2 separate regions of the Homo sapiens genome follow, and region 2 is linked to region 1. A link means that fine-mapping ties the variant in region 1 to the expression of a gene that starts in the linked region. Tissue or cell type: tibial artery. Region 1 holds a variant in brackets; the other region holds the start of a gene. All regions are shown on one strand. Distances are from middle to middle.

Region 1 (8,366 bases):
CAGGGTGATTATTTTAAAACATCAGTCAGAATATATCACCTTTCCAACAATATGTTCTTCAAGATTTTTTTCATCTAACATGCAACAATTTAGATGAATCTCATCCACATAATGTTGAGTAAAAGAAGCCAGAAGCAAGAGTTCATACTGTATGATTGCATTCATTTAAAATACAAAATCAGGCCGGGCACAGTGGCTCACGCCTGTAATCCCAGCACTTTGGGAGGCTGAGGAGGGTGGATCACCTGAGCTCAAGAGTTCGAGACCAGCCTAGCCAACATGGTGAAACCCTGTTTCTACTAAAAATACAAAAAGTAGCTGGACATTCCAGCCTGGGTGACAAGAGCAAAACTCTGTCTCAAAATAATACATAAATAAATTAATTAATTAAAAAACAAAACCAGGTAAAACCAATTCTGTGTTGTTAGAAATAAGGATAGTGATTGACAGGACGGGGGTTGATTGTGACTGCAAGAGAACACCAGGAGGGCTTCTGGGGGCTGGTCTTTTCTATTTCCTGATCTGGGCGCTGGTTGCTCATGTGTATTCAGTTTGTAAAAATTTAGCAAGTTACACCCTTATGAAGTATTTTGTATTTTTAGTACAGACGGGGTTTCTCCATGTTGGTCAGGCTGGTCTCGAACTCCCGACCTCAGGTGATCTGCCCACCTTAACCTCCCAAAGTGCTGGGATTACAGGCGTGAGCCACCGTGCCCGGCCCAGAAAATTATTCTTCTCCTTTAGACTTACAGTCTAAGAATTTGTCAGCATTTATAACCATTAGCATTTATAACCAAAGACACAACGTACCAGAATCTCTGGGACACAGCTAAAGCAGTGTGTAGAGGGAAATTTATAGCACTAAATGCCCACGGGAGAAAGCAGGAAAGATCTAAAATCGACATCTAACATAACAATTAAAAGAACTAGAGAAGCAAGAGCAAACAAATTCATAAGCTAGCAGAAGGCAAGAAATAACTAAGATCAGAGCAGAAGCGAAGGAGATAGAGACATGAAAAACCCTTCAAAAAAATCAATGAATCCAGGAGCTGGTTTTTTGAAAGATTAACAAAATAGATGGACCATTAACCAGACTAGTAAAGATGAAAAGAGAGAAGAATCAAATAGACACAATAAAAAATGATAAAGAGGATATCACCACTGATCCCACAGAAATACAAACTACCATCAGAGAATACTATAAACACCTCTATGCAAATAAGCTAGAAAATCTAGAAGAAATGGATAAATTCCTGGACACATACACCCTTCCAACACTAAAGCAGGAAGAAGTCGAATCCCTGAATAGACCAATAACAAGTTGTGAAATTGAGGCAGTAATTAATAGCCTGCCAACCACAAAAAGCCCAATAAATCTTTATTGAGCAGTAGGCACTGATCTAGGCATGTGGAATACAGCAGTGAACATGAGCTACAAAAGCTTCTTGGCTGGGTGCAGTGGCTCATGCCTGTAATCCCAGCATTTTGGGAGGCAGGCAGATCGCTTGAGTCCAGGAGTTCAAAACCAGCTTGGGCAACATAGTGAAATCCTGTCTGTACAAAAAAATACAAAAATTAGCCAAGCATGGTGGCATGCTCCTATAGTCCTAGCTACTTGGGAGGCTGAGACAGGGAGGATACAGTGAGCCAGGATCACGCACTGCGCCCCAGCCTGGGTGACAGAGCGAGACTCTGTCTCAAAAAAATAACAAACAAAAACCACGTAAAAGTAAGTTTTATATAAGTGAGAAAAGGCCTCATTGAGATGGCATCTGGGCTAGCGCTTGGAAGGAGATAAGGGAAGTAGCCCTGTGTATGTCTGGGAGAAGAGCGTCCTGGTCTGAGGGAATGGAAAGCAAAGGCCCTGAGGCAGAAGCAGGCTCGGTGTGCACGAGCAAGCACTTGCAAGGAGCACTAGCAAGGAGACAGTGGGATTGAAGAGGAATAGGCCAGGGCACACGAGCTGGAGATGAGGGCAGAAGCACACCTGGAGCCAGATGGCGAAGGAGCTAGTAGGCCTCTGTAAAGACTTGGGAGTTTCATTCTGCCTGAGATTGAGGGTCAAGGGGGGAGTCATTTTTTTGCCCAGGCTGGTTTGAGTTAGGTTCCAGGTGCTTGTAGTGGCAGGCCATTCATCTTCATTGCTGTAAATAAATTTCAGTTTATTATCCATTCTTCTATTGATTGATATTTAGGTGATTTGCAAGACATATTAATTGTAAAGAAATTGAACAAGATATATCCTTTTTTAAAAAATTGCGTAACTTTTATGACATAACAGGTTAGTTCCAATGACAATCAGACAATCAGTACTCATGGTATACATTAGAGATAAATTATGAGTACATATATATTACTGTCAAATAGTAAAGTGTGCAAGGTTGAAAATACAAAGATATGCCAGATAGACTGCTTGCCTTCAAGGACCCTATAGTCTAGTTGGAGATAAGATATATTTGCATATGGAACAGCAATTTGCAAGGACACATATAGGCAACACCAAATAACATCTTAGGCAATTTGCCCCATAAGCATTCTGAAATAGGCAAGATCACTTTGTACTCCATTGATACAAGATTTTATAGGGCAGCTGAGAATTTAGCAGAGCCTGAAAACGTACATAGGATTTGGAAAAGCGGAGACAGAATTTGCAGACATTATCTGAGCAAGGGAAATAACAAGAAGGCCAGTTTGTGTTTAAGGGGTCTGTGGGTGGTCAGTCTGAGTTAAAGTTTAGGATTCATTTTAAAGCCTAACAGAGATTTGGATGAATGTAATTCTAAAGTAAAGTAAAGAGCTGCGTTCAAATCTGGGAATATTTATATAGCCCACATTGCTCAATCATTTTGATGTATTAATGCCACATTTACCGTTATTCAACCTCAAAGTTCACAAGGCCTAAATGTTTTAAATGTATGTATTTTTAGACCAACAAAGAAAATTCATCCAGTGTGACTGTATCAGACCCTGAGATGGAAAATAAGGCAGGCCAGACTCTGGAGAACAGCTCATTAATGGCCGAGCTCCTGAGCGATGTGCCGTTCACCCTGGCCCCGCATGTGCTGGCAGTACAGGGCACCATCACTGACCTTCCCGACCACTTACTCTCCTATGATGGCAGCGAAAACTTATCACGGTTTTGGTATGATTTCACTCTTGAAAATTCAGTGCTCTGTGATTCATAACCTTTATGTCTGTTTGCACCTTAACAGCTTTAAAATATGTTCGCCTATTTTATCTAACCTGTTTGATGTTCTTTGCCGTTTCACTGTTTAAGGTCCTCAGCAAGGATCATAAAGCAAAGAAAATAGCATTATGTTCACTACTCTATTTTTAAGAAAAAGGTACATTTGTATACAAATTGAACTTAAGTTCTACTTCCTTTCTCCCATATAATAAATATACAAATTAGGCTATGAAGGTTTTAGGAAAGGACTCGATTCCTTCAGATGGTCTCTCAAAATATAACACCTCAAATTTATCTTAGAAGAACTGTGAAAAAGAATTGTGGCATTTTTCAGTCACTACAGCTCCGAAGTCTGAGCAAGAAGTGGGTGTGAAGTCTCCTCTCTGGTTTGTAGGAAGTTGAATT[G/A]GTGTTATTCCTGCATTTTTTTCTTCCACAGTGTTTATGAATGAATTCAGAAAAAAAGTTGCCAGTTAGCTTAATTTCTTCAGATGCATTGATGTGGAAATTTAAAACTTGTCCTAAACAGCAGTGCTAGTTTGCTGATACAAGGATGCTAGACCTGCTCTGCGTGCTCTTTCTGGAGTGGCCCATTTCGGTTTTCTGAAACCCATGGCAGCCCTTTCCATCGTGAATAATCGTTGTGTTCCCACCTTTGTTCTCTGCCTTTTTGCTACTTCAGTGTGCTCTCTGACCAGCTTTCCAAAGAACTTTCCCTGCTTCTGCCTCGGTTGCCATTTGCTCTCCTTACCACATATGTTCCCAGTTTATGAAGAGATCCACATTTCCTTTCAACCCCTCTGCCTCCTGAAGAAAAACATCTCATGATGATACATATTATTGCTGATAACACCCTTATTTAGAAATTTGTTGGCCACAATAGAGATGGAAATGTTTTACTGCTGGAAAAACTGAAATCAACTCATTTCCAATTAGAGTATAGGCAGAACACCTAGATATGACTTTTAGTTCTTGAATATCCATTACTTACTTTAATGAAAACAGAACTGCCATTGGTCAATAAACTGTAAAGGGAAGAGGTAAATTGTGATAGAGAATTTTCTATGTCATGGGAAATTGAAATCACATTTATTTTGATTACCAGCAATATGATTTGTTAACTCTGTGCCAAGTTTTAAGTATATTTTTTCACAAAGATAGAGTGCCATAGTGAAACTAAACACTGTGCATAAAGGTACATGAATTATTCCAGTTTTAAAGTATTATGCATGTTTGTTTAATAAATGTGGCATGGTTTTAATACAAATGCTATGTTATTTAAAAGTTAGAGGAACATTTCTATTGACAAAAATATGCTTCATTTACATATAATGTTACCATATGGTGTTAATGATTAAATTAGATCTTTACATAGTTCTTACAAAGCATCAGTCTAGGAAATATGACTTATTACTGATGCAAACGTGAACATTTTGTAGTAGTTTTGTAAAAGAACATCCTTTTCAAATATCTGTGTTAATGTACCCTTGAAATTAAATGCAAGCACATAGTCAGTTTGTCTAATTTTGTGTGAAATTTTGTCGAAAATACCTAAACATTTCATCTATATTTGTGCCTACCATGTTATAAATGTTCATAAGTACCTTCATGTGTCTATAAAAAATGTTATATTTAAATAAATGTGAATTAAAATAAAATTTTTGATTATTTTCAGATCCAGAAAAATGGGTTTGATTGCATTATTTATATCTGAATGCAAGTTGTTAATTCTTTAGGAGCCAAAAAGTTTAAGTATATAGTTTGTATAGTGCTGGGAAAAATATACGATTTCCTCTTACATGTAAGTTTTAAGGAATAACATTAAAAATGGTAAGATCCCTAGTCCTGGCTTAACAGGACTGGAGGGATTTGAGAGAGATGACATGAGCATTTCTAGATTGATACCATCATCACAACATTTAGTAAGGGCCAATGTTAATGATCTTCTTCTTTAAACAAAAATATTGTGAAAATTACCATTTAATTTTTTATTCTGTATATAAATTAATATTTCTATGAAACATTAGAAATCAATACGTCAACTTCATTTTACCCAAGATAAAATTGAAGCCTAGAAAGACTAAATGACTTAAATCACTTAGTGATAAATAAATGCCTACTTTAATAGTGTTAGTAATTATAATATATGATAACAAAGCTGTATGATATGGTGGGAGAGAGTTCAGGCAATTGAGGCAGCCAGACAGAGTTTGTAATGGCTCCCTCCTTTATAAGCTGTGGGGCTTTCAATCAGTCCCCTAACTTCTGGTGCCCTCAGTTCTCTCAATTGTGAAACACTAATTGTTCATAACTTGTAGCGTTGTGTTAAGTTATAGGTGGTGTATGTCAAATGCCTGGCAGCCTAAAGCCTTGCACATCATCGGTATTCTGGGAAAGGGATTGTTATAATTCTCGTTATTGACCATACACACACAATACTATAATGAAATGCAAAATACATATTAATTGAACTTCTTGAAGAGTAACATAAATAAAACAGCTACCTACGTTAACTGTAGATCCCCCTCCTTCCCAGTTATTTTTTTCCATATTAAATACCTTACTATGAGAAATATTCCTAAAATATGTTAGTTGACTGTTCTGCCTTAACTAAGAATTCCATAGTGAACATTTTTTTCTTTTTCTCGTTATTACAGTCTTTTTCCTAATATATGTTATTGTTGCAAAGTACTATAGATATGGAATGTGCAGGTGATTTTACTGAATCTTATTTATTTATTTGTGACAGAGTTTTGCTCTTGTCACCCAGGCTGGAATGCAATGGCATGATCTCGGCTCACTGCAACCTCCTCCTCCTGGGTTCAAGCGATTCTCTTGCCTCAGCCTCCCAAGTAGCTGCGATTACAGGTGCCTGCCACCATGCCTAATTTTTTTTTTTTTTTTTTTTAGTAGATACAGGGCTTCACCATGTTGACTAGGCTGGTCTCGAACTCCTGAGATGATCCACCCGCCTAGGCCTCCCAAATTGCTGGGATTACAGGCATGAGCCACTGTGCCCAGCCTTGAATCTTATTTTTAGCCCTAAAATATATTCAAGAACTTGCATGTATTTTTTTCCCAAGCTTTCTTTAAAGACATTTGCATTCTTTCCTAAAAACAGAATGAGAGAGGCGATTCTGACCAATTTATTATCCTGGCTAATTAAATTTTGATCAACTGAACTTTTAAAATTGTACCATTAAAATGTTAACAAAGCCACAATTTTTATTAACAATTGCAAATCAAATCCGTAATAGTTTTTTAAGGTAAATATTCATTGACGTCAACACTTATTTTTTTCTTCTCTTAAAGAAAAATGGTAAATTCAAAACAGTATGAAAAAATTCTTCTAAAATTCCCAGAGATTTCATTTCTCATAATTCTAAATGACAGATAAGGAGAAGCAAGGAAAGAATCTCACTCATGTTCTGAAACCGTAGTACATCAGACTACCTCTGTGCCTCCCATGGTAACAATTGATCAATAAGTGAACACTGCCCTCAGTAATCTAGCAAAGAATATGTTTCTTTCAGAGATTAGTGCGTTATCTTATTAATTATGTCAATAACTCACACAAAATATAAGTTTATTGGAAATGCAGTTGAAGGATGGTTTATCTTTTAAAGTTTTTGGGAAATACAGGTTTATTGACATTCTCTTTTGAGCATTTGTCCCATATTACTGAGGGCATGACCTAGGTATTATTGGGAAATCTAAAACTTTCAGAATAAGTCCAATTCCATTCATACTACAGTGGCTTGAAGGATTAAGTATTCTTATGTTTCAGGAAAAGGACTCTTTTTGCCATATGGTTTGGCAGATAGGCGTGTGTGGGAAAGAGAGAAAGAGGTATTGATTGACGCAGGGAACTCTGTTTCAGTCGATGTGACAATATGTCAGTCTTTTAAAAATTTAAATAAACTTTTTATTTTGGAATAGTTTTAGATTCACAGAAAAATTATGAAGGTACTACAGAGAGTTCCCACATACCCCTCACTTAGTTTCCCCTGTTGTTGACATGTCACGTAACTGCAGTACATTTGTCACAACCGAGGAATCAACACCGGTACATTGCAATTAACTACACTGCACACCCCGTTCAGATTTCATAGTTTTCCTCTAATGTCCTTTTTCTCCTTCAGCAGCCTACCTGGGATAGCACATTACATTTATTTAGTCGTCATATCTCCTTAGGCACCTCTTGGCTTCAACAGTTTCTCAGACTTTTTATTTTTGATGACCTTGACAGTTTTGAGGAGTACTGGTTAAGTATTTTGTAGAATATTTCTCAAGTGGGGTTTATCTGATGTTTTCACATGGTTAGACTAGGGATATCGGTTTTTGGAGAAATATTAAAAAGGTGATACCCCCTTCAGTGAGATTATATCGTATTGAGAGTAGTATAAGCTATAGACATGACTTATTACTGATGATGCTGACTTTGAATACCTGGCCAAAGTAGTGCTTCTCAGGTTTCTCCACTGCAAAAGTTATTCCCCCCAACCTTTCTATACTCTTTGGAATTAAATCACAAAGCACAGCCCACACTCAACGAGTGGGTAATTAAACTCCACCTCCTTGAAAGGCAACTATCACATAAATTATTTGGAATTCTTCTGCATGAGAGATTTGTCTCTTTTCCCCAATTTATTTATCAATTATTTATATTAGTATGAACTCAGGAATCTTCAATCTTTTTCCAAGTCTTAATCAGTGCTATCCAAGAGACATATTTACATTTTTATGAAAGTCGATAAAATTTGGAACATTTTACATGGTGCAGATGAATACCATTTTATGTTGGATACGATAGTATATTCTATGGTTTCCTCAAAATTTATCTTCCTGTTAATGTCAGGCATGTATCTCCTTAGCTTGCCACAAATAACTATATATACCACAGACCTTCCTTTGTAGGGCTAACAGTGTTGCATTGTAAGTGGAGGCCTCATAGATACCTGGCCTTTTCCTACCTTATTCCAAAGATGGTTGCATCTTATAAATAATGTCATTCTTCAGCAAATGGTATGGAAATGAGATTGTAATGTCATTATTTCCTCTTTAAATAATCAGGACAACTCATGATACAAAGAGCTCTTCTCTATAAAAGGTGGGACTTTTTTTTTTAGTAATAGCAAAAATAAAATTGTACCTCCTTAATCTTCTACAGAAAGATGGATTT
Region 2 (8,366 bases), 240 kb before region 1:
TCACCCTTTTGGAAGTGAGTTTCTAAAAATGGAGATATGGATTATGGATTCTTGTATTTAACTGTGGCACCAAAAAAAAGACATGGGAGTACCATCCATTTTGATGTTCATTATACAGGCAGTTTCTGCCTGGTAGTGTTTTGGGTGTTATGCATTATTCAATTCCTTCAATTCAGATATTACAACAAAAAAACTAATACTATTTTTGTTATATTTAAAAAAATTATCTTTCAACAAACATTAATTAATCTTTACTGAGTTTCTTACATATATAAGCACTACTTAAAAGCAGGCCAAAACAAAATGTACCCCCATTTGCCTTTACGATCACAAAATTCTATAGAAATTGAAAATGTGGCAGTACTAAAACTCTAGACCAATATATATCAAACTAAAAATAAAACTGTTTTCCTGTATGTTTATGTTATGTAATTGTATGTAATACATACAATTTTGTATGTAATACAAAATGTATGTTAAAACATAGTTATATAAAACTGTATGTTATGTAATTACATACAGTTATATAAAACTGTATGTTATGTAATTACATACAGTTATATAAAACTGTATGTTATGTAATTACATACAGTTATATAAAACTGTATGTTATGTAATTACATACAGTTATATAAAACTGTATGTTATGTAATTACATAAAACCAGTCAATACTAGAATGCTTTATTTACCAAAAGGATGGCTATCTTCTTTAAACTGGACATAAGATGTACACAAGATGGTGGCCTTGGCGGTTACTCTTCCAACCACTTCCACAATTCCAGAGATTTCTTCATCAAGCTAAGACACAGAACAAGACATCGATTTGGTGATATCACATTTTCAGTTGACAATTATTTTGGAAAACTGTTATACAGGTTACTAATCTATCACTTCAAGTAACAAAGTAATTTTAAGAATTACCAGTGTAAAAGTTAAAATGTAACTTGTTAACAAATGTTTGAGTACTTAACTGTCAGCATGTTAAAATTCCTGCTACCTTTAGCAGTAGCTTCAAGTCCAAAGCTACAATTCAAGTTAAAGACAAAATCACTATTGAAAACGTCCAGCATTTCTATAAGCAGTAATATCCTATGAGAGGAATCTTCTATAATCTGTATTTCACAATGTGTTCTGTATACATTAACCAAACAGCATATGGATTTGTCTTCACAAAATACCAAAAAAAGTTTTAAGTATGTTAAACATAAAATGCAAACATAAATAAGTAAAAACTGGAAATATATGAACAAAAATAGAAAATAAAATAAAATCGAAAACTCTTGAGGGGCTGGTCGAGGCAGGAGGATTGCTTGAGACCGAGAGTTCAAGACCAGCCTGAGGAACATAGGGAGATGCCATCTTTACAAAAAACAAAACAAAACAAAACAAAACAAAACAAAACAAAAATTAGCCAGGCATGGTTAAGCATGCCTGTAGTCCCAGCTACTGGGGAGGCTGACATGGGAGCAACTTGATCTTGGGAGGCTAAGGCTGCAGTGCGCCATGATGGTGCCACTGCATTCCACCCGGGGTAACAGAGTGAGACCCTGTCTCAAAACAAAAAAACAAAAACGAAACAAAAAACCTCTTGAGGAAGAAAAAAGCAACGTAAATTTTTCTTATGTGATTTTATGGTCTTTCATAAGGAATGAGAATTGTTATCCAACATTTATGGGATATGTTCAAAAATCATGACGCCCAAAAAATCATTGGTTAAAAATGTAAAAGGAAATATAATGAGAGAATAGTACAAGAATTAAATTTTACAGCCAGGGACGTTTTACCAGCTCATCCTTTTTAAATCCATTGCAAAAATTAGAAACATCGGCAACAAACCAAATCAAGATGAAGAATTAACTATAATATATAAGAGACTTATTAACACTTAAACATACGGGTTCCATCAACTCGATGGTTCCATTTTTTCCTTCTCCATCTGAAAGAATAAACATTTTTCCGGTGGGATGAATCTAAAAACGAAACATATAATTAAAATCTCACTAAAACAACAACAAAGTTTGACTAAAGATGAGTACATTGATCCTTAGTTGAGCACAAATCAACTGTTTCTTGAACAGTTTATTCATTCAGTTTATTCAACTTATTGGATCAAATTATAATCTTATGTTATCAAATCTGTTCATGGAACACACAGTTAATTTCTGAATTTCAGATAAACAAGGATTTTTTTTGTAGTGTTAAGTAGGTTCTGTATTTGCTAAATATGGCAACCCTATTCTGATAACAAATTAAAGGATGCCCACCCTAAAAGTGAAATCTGCTGGCACTCATGATTTAGACAGTACATATCCCACGGAGGGTATGTTTTAAAAAACAGGCATGATGAAGTAAAAGGAGAACTGGTTGCTAGAATATCTGGGTCCTACTCCTGGGAAGCAGCTGTAAAGAGCGCTGTCAGATTGCGTTTGAATGCCAGCTTTGCCATTTGCCGAGTTTCTGAGCATTTTAGTCAACCACCTACCACTCCTACTCAGTTTCCCTACTTGGGAAGTCAGAGCAACACTCATTTAAGGAAGAGGATGTGTGGATGAAATGAGCTACTAAATAAGTCTTTATATAATAGTTTTCTTTTCCTCAGCTTTTCAGGTCACTGATTCCAAGACTTTGGGCCTGTTTCTCGCCTGTAGAATGAGGGAACTTCACTTTAATACTGGGGTTAAATAACTCGTTACTACGGGACCCAAAGCGGACAACCAAGGCATGTTTTACAGAGAAGCGATCACAACGAGGAAACGAGGTTTGCAAAAATAAGTAATTTCAGAAGAGAAGGAAACCAGCAGATTAGTTTTGTCTGCGTCCGTCACGTCTGAGTAAACTAAGAAATCTGAAGGTAGATGTGGGAGTGGTGTTTATAATTTCCCTTACGTAAGCACGGCTAGAACGGAGGCGACGGGCACTGGAATTTAGAACTCAGCATTTGAAAACACTTTGTTTCCGTGCCATAAAAGAGCGCCAAAATGGGGCTACAACGGCTAAAGAATTTCCAAAAAGTTCCTTGTGCAAAATAAAGGAGTCGGGGGCGCAGTGATCGGAGGCTTTCCGTCCTTTTTCATCCCCCGTTATCCAGGCGGGGTCCCTCCCTCCAGCTACGGACTTGGGAGCCCATGATTGCGAACCCGCACACCTTTTCCAGCCTCCCTACGAAGCAGACAGGCTTGTCGATGAATTGAGCTAGCATGCCGGCGTTGATGCGCGACCTGGGCAAGTCCATCATGTCCACCATGATTATGGTCCAAGACTGCGGCTGGCGGGAAACCCACGGACGACTGAAACTGTGCGCCCCGCGGGTGTCTATGGGGCAGATTTCTCGGCACCAATCAGCGAAGACTAGCGCTCCAGCTTCGCCAATTAAATGCGCGGAAACCTAAATCGCAATCGCGCTGTCTCTGAAAGGGGTGGAGAAGGGGCTGGATGAGTCCGGAAGTGGAGATTGGCTGCTTAGTGACGCGCGGCGTCCCGGAAGTTGACAGATACAGGGCGAGAGGCAGTGGAGGCGGGACTTGGATAGGGGCGGAACCTGAGACTACCTTTCTGCGATCACAGGATTCCCGGCGGTGACTTGACCCCGGAAGTGGGGTGTGAAGCTCCGGTGCTGGTGCGGCGGGGGACTGCGGGGCCAGCCTCAGGTACCTCGTCTCGCGGGAGGCGCCGCAACCTTACTGTTTCCCCATTCTTCCCGCGAACAGAGTCAAAAGAGCTAGGCGGGAGTCGGCACTAGCTGCTGCCGCGGTGCTGTGGGTGCTGCGTACCAGCTGTTCACTGCTGTCTCGCCTTCCCTCTTGCCAGTTCTGCGTGGGAGGCGCGGGAGTTTTGCGGAATGATACGTGGTGTGGCGTCGGGGTTGTGATACCCGCCCCCTTGGAGATGGGCAGCGGGGTCATCAGTGATCTTGATCACTTTCTTCAGGCTTTTGCCACTTGTTGGCTGAGGGTCGATTTACTCCCTTAGCTGCGTCACTCTACTTTCTCCACTTTCTCCACCTGTAAGAAGAGAGATTGATCCGATTACTTCTAAGACGTTTTTTAGCCCAACCTGGCCACACTGCGGAGGCGCCGGTTCTTTCACCCCGCTAACCCCTCCGTGTTGGCAGCCAATAGAAGCACTTAAGGATGGGTAACGGGGAAGAACCACTGGCCAGTACTAGGGGAGACAAGCTTAAATCGTTGTTAGACCCCGAGCTAGGGTTCCCCGAGCTAGGGTTCTCCCTTCTGAGGCGTGTTTTCCCCATCTGCAAAACGAAGGGTTAGGCGGAATGATTTGCAAGGTCCCAGTTGACTCTGACTTTTGGCCATATGTTTGACTCAACAGTTTAAACCCCCTCAGCAGTCTTTCTGTCGTTGCCCTCCACACTGCGAGACTCTGGAGGGCGATCTGGAGGTCTGGAAGATAACCGATTCCTGGGAGATTTGGGGGTAGTCTCCAATCTGTCCCTGGCTCATCTTGTGACCCGAAGCCGGCGGCCTTGCCAGGAGTATTCTAGAATGAGTGCACATAAAAATACCTTCAAACGGTACGGTGGAAATTGGACAGAAGTTTTAATTGGGTATTATAACGTTGTGGAAACTGAGTCTGTGAATTGGCCCAAAGCTACAGAATTGTCATCGTTCAAATTCCCTTAAGCAAAAAAGATCCGATTTGAGACTTCACGTGGCAATTTAAGATTGGAATCTCATGTACGATAATTAAATGATAGTCTCCCTTAGTGTTTCCTTAGCACTTAATAGGTTTGTCTTAGTTTTACTCACTAACGGTACTTTAAAGGATTTCATTAAACAGATGTAGAATGTGTGTCAGTGGTGTATAAAAAAGTTGTGGTTGTATTGGTGCAAGTCAGTAAAGTCTATTTTATATTACAGCTTTAAGTCTTTTGTACTTTAGCATTGTTTTGCAAAGCAAGTTGATGTGCATTATATAGGGGAGAGTACACACATCAATGTCTTTAATAGCATTTTTTTTTGAGGCAAGATCTCTCTCTGTCACCCAGACTGGAGTGCAGTAGCATGCACATAGCTCACTGCAGCCTTTAACTCGTAGGCTTAAGCGATCCTCTCACCTCAGCCTGCCAAGTAGCTGGGACTATAAGCACATACCACCACACCCAGCTAATAAAGATTTTTTTTTTGTTGTTTGTTTTTTTTTGTTCAGATGGGGCCTCGCCATGTTGACCAGGCTTATCTCAAACTCCTGGGCTCAGGCGATCCCTCCCTCCCCCGTCTCCCTCCCAAAGTACTGGAATTACAGGTGTGAGCCTTGGTGCGTACCCTGTAATAGTGATTTTTTTTTTTTTTAAAGAGCACTCCTGTGAGTACCAGATGTTAATGTCGTTGTTTACCTGCAGTTAGAAAGACCACTTTTAAGCAAAGGCTTTCTTTTAAAACAGGGAGATGAGCAGGAAGATAATTTAAAACAGCTTTTTCGTGTATTTTTGAGTCACTTAAAATATTATAAAATACATGATGTACAGAAAAAAGTATAGCTAGCCGATTTGCATAGTTTTGAGAGAAATGAAATGAATCCATGGGGCCTGTCATTCAGCTGAAGAAATGGAACTTTACCAGTTACCAGTAAATTTTACCAGTTTGCACTTCCCCAATGAAGCCCTCCTTGCTACAGCCATAAGTAAACACTATCTTGAAATTTGTGTTAAGCTTCCTAAGCTTTTCTAGGTGGTTTTATCACACATGCAGGCGTTGCTAAATGGTATGTTGTTTAATATTGCCAGTCTTTGACCTTTATATAAACAGAAACGTATGTATCTTCTGACTTCTTTTGTTTGTTTTTGAGATTCATCTATGTTGACGAATGTACGTAGATCATATTTTTTTTTCTGTTACAGGTAGGCATGAGTGGGACAGTAGTGGGCTCTCCCCCAACCCACTAGAAATGTTGGGGGATGGTTTGGCAATTACCGAATTTGCTTCTCTAAAAATGATAATTCTGCAGCGCCAGGGAGAGGCCATTTCCTGATGGTCCACACCTGTTATCAAAATGTTAATTGAATGTAGACCCGAGGGAGAAACAGCTTCCTGGGCATGCATATTAAGAGACAAAAATGGTAAAGTATGATCTTCCAGGTACACTCCACCGGAAAAAGGAAGGAAGCCTCAGATGGGCGTGCATGTAACTCCCTAAAAACACTTCCCAAGGCTAAGGAGGGCTCTGTGCCTGCCGGCAGCCTATCCTAAGGAAAGAATCATGGGAAATAGACAAGCTTGTAAAAGTCCTAGGATCAGGGCCGGGCGCGGTGGCTCACGCCTGTAATCCCAGCACTTTGGGAGGCTGAAGCGGGTGGATCACCTCAGATCAGAAGTTCAAGACCACCCTGGTCAACATGGTGAAACCCTGTCTCTACTAAATATACAAAAAAGTATCCAGGCGCGATGGCGGGGGCCTGTAGTCCCAGCTACTCGGGAGGCTGAGGCAGGAGAATGGCGTGAACCCGAGAGGCGGAGCTTGCAGTGAGCCGAGATCGCGCCACTTCACTCCAACCTGGGCCACAGAGCGAGACTCCCTCTCAAAAAAAAAAAAAACAAACAAACGAAAAAAAAAGGATCAACGGTTAAATCGGACACTTGACCTACTCTCTTTAACCTTCACATTCCCGCTTGGGTCTCTAACAAGCACACCTTCCTTTCTTCCTGTTTTAAGGCCTTTTAAAGTAAACTTCCATTCCTGCTCTGGAACTTGCCTGGGTCTCTGTTTCTGCTTTATGCCCCTCAGTCAAATTTTTTCGTCTGAGGAGGCAAGGACTGAAGTTGCTACTGACCCGTGAGGATAGGCCACCGGTAACTTGGGGTAACTTGGATCTCTGCCACTAGTAAAAAAATGATTTCCCCAAATGGTGGTACCAGTTTACTCTCTTACCTGGAGTATAAGACAGTTTACAGTTATTGTATATTCTTGGCAACTCTTGGAGTTTTTTCCCCCAATTTGATGGATATGAAGTGTTTTTTTGTCGTGACCCTAATTTGCACTCCCTGATTACTGAAAAGTTTGAACATTTTTTCAGATTTTTATTGGTTATTTATGTTTATCTTTTTTTCCTTGATTTTTCTTTTTCTTACTGACTTTTAAGAGCTTTTTATTAGTGAGATATTGTAATGGTACAAGTGTTGTCTGTTTTTGGCCTATCTTTCCGTTTCCTTCCTTCATTCCATCCTTTTTTTTTTTTTATTAGGAAGACCTCTTTTAATATAGTTAAACATTTTCCCCCTTAAGTTTAATGTAGGAGAAAAGTCCATTAAAATCTCATTTATGAATTCTTTGATACATCGTACTCTTAAAGGTATTCTATTTTTCCTAAAATGTTTAGAGTTTTGCCTTTCATATTTAATAGTCCGTCATCTAGAATTCACTCTTCATGTATGTTGTCAGATAAGTCTCCAATCTCTGTTTTGTTTTAATTTCAGTTGTCCTAATGTGATTTGACTGTATCACCTTTTTGCCACCTTCACTTGTCACCTTAAGTTTACAGATATGTGTGGAGTCAATTCTATTCTATGGATCTATTTTTCTATCCCTGAACCACTACCTATTTTCTTTAATAGTGTAGCTTATCATAACTTTTGATGTCTGGGGCTGTGTTCTCGGGAATGTCTTGGTTATTTTTGTCTCTTTGCTCTTCTGTATAGAATGTAGCTTATGAATTTCCAGGAAAAACTGTGTTGGAATTTTGATCAAAATTGCACTGTATCCTTGGATGTATTTCAGGAAAAGTAACACCTGAATGTCAACTCTTACTATCCTTGAGCCATTTTGGTCCTCTTAAAATCTTTCCAAAAGGTCTCATACTTTTCTACATAAAAGTTTTGACTTTTAGCTTAGATTTATTCCTAGATACCTTGTTTTTGTTGCTATTATGAATGGTATCATTTTTTAAATTAAAGATTTTAACTGATTGTTTTGGTATATAGAAATGCCATTTTAAGAATTTTCTATCAGTTTTTTTTGGAATTTTCTATTCATATTTGAATAATTATAGTTTTGTTTCTTAAGAATTCTTACATATTTTATTTATCTTTCTTACCTTTTGCCTAGGATAGAGCCTTCAGTACCATTTTGAATAGAAATAGTGTTTAAGTCAAGATGGGGTTTAGCTGCATAAACAAAAGTATCTTTAATGCACAAACGCTTATTCTCACATGTGAAAGAAGTCCACAGCTGTGCAACTTAGTACTTATGTGGTAGTGCACTAAGACTCAGGGCCCCAGGTTCTTTCTGTCTTTCTGTAGTTCTACATTCAATATCTAGTTCCATATTTATGGTTATCTCATAGGCCAGGTAAGTGATGGAGCTTCAGCTATCAAGTAAATCCACGTTCTATGTGGCAGAGAAGTGGACCCGC

What was found. PIP is the estimated chance that this variant, and not a neighbour inherited with it, causes the effect.
Region 2: UMAD1 starts here. The variant in region 1 is fine-mapped to the expression of UMAD1 in tibial artery (GTEx, PIP above 0.99). The same link has a PIP of 0.9 or more in sigmoid colon, subcutaneous fat and whole blood.

The regions. Positions count from the first base shown.
Region 1 is chr7:7,874,354-7,882,719 of GRCh38, forward strand. UMAD1 (UBAP1-MVB12-associated (UMA) domain containing 1) reads left to right here. Exons shown (of 4, transcript NM_001302348.2): 4 at 2,928-4,870. The coding sequence ends at 3,185. All of the region lies in intron 3 of LOC124901586 (a long non-coding RNA gene), which reads right to left. Among named protein-coding and RNA genes, the nearest start is that of GLCCI1-DT, 90 kb to the right of the region's middle. The variant G/A (reference allele first, on the strand shown) is at 3,593.
Region 2 is chr7:7,637,174-7,645,539 of GRCh38, forward strand. UMAD1 (UBAP1-MVB12-associated (UMA) domain containing 1) reads left to right here and starts at 3,579. Exons shown (of 4, transcript NM_001302348.2): 1 at 3,579-3,648. RPA3 (replication protein A3) reads right to left here. Exons shown (of 8, transcript NM_002947.5): 5 at 3,147-4,002; 6 at 1,897-1,971; 7 at 691-799. The coding sequence starts at 3,245. RefSeq lists enhancers at 2,760-2,809, 3,180-3,229, 3,500-3,699, 3,740-3,789, 3,870-4,039 and a silencer at 3,270-3,399.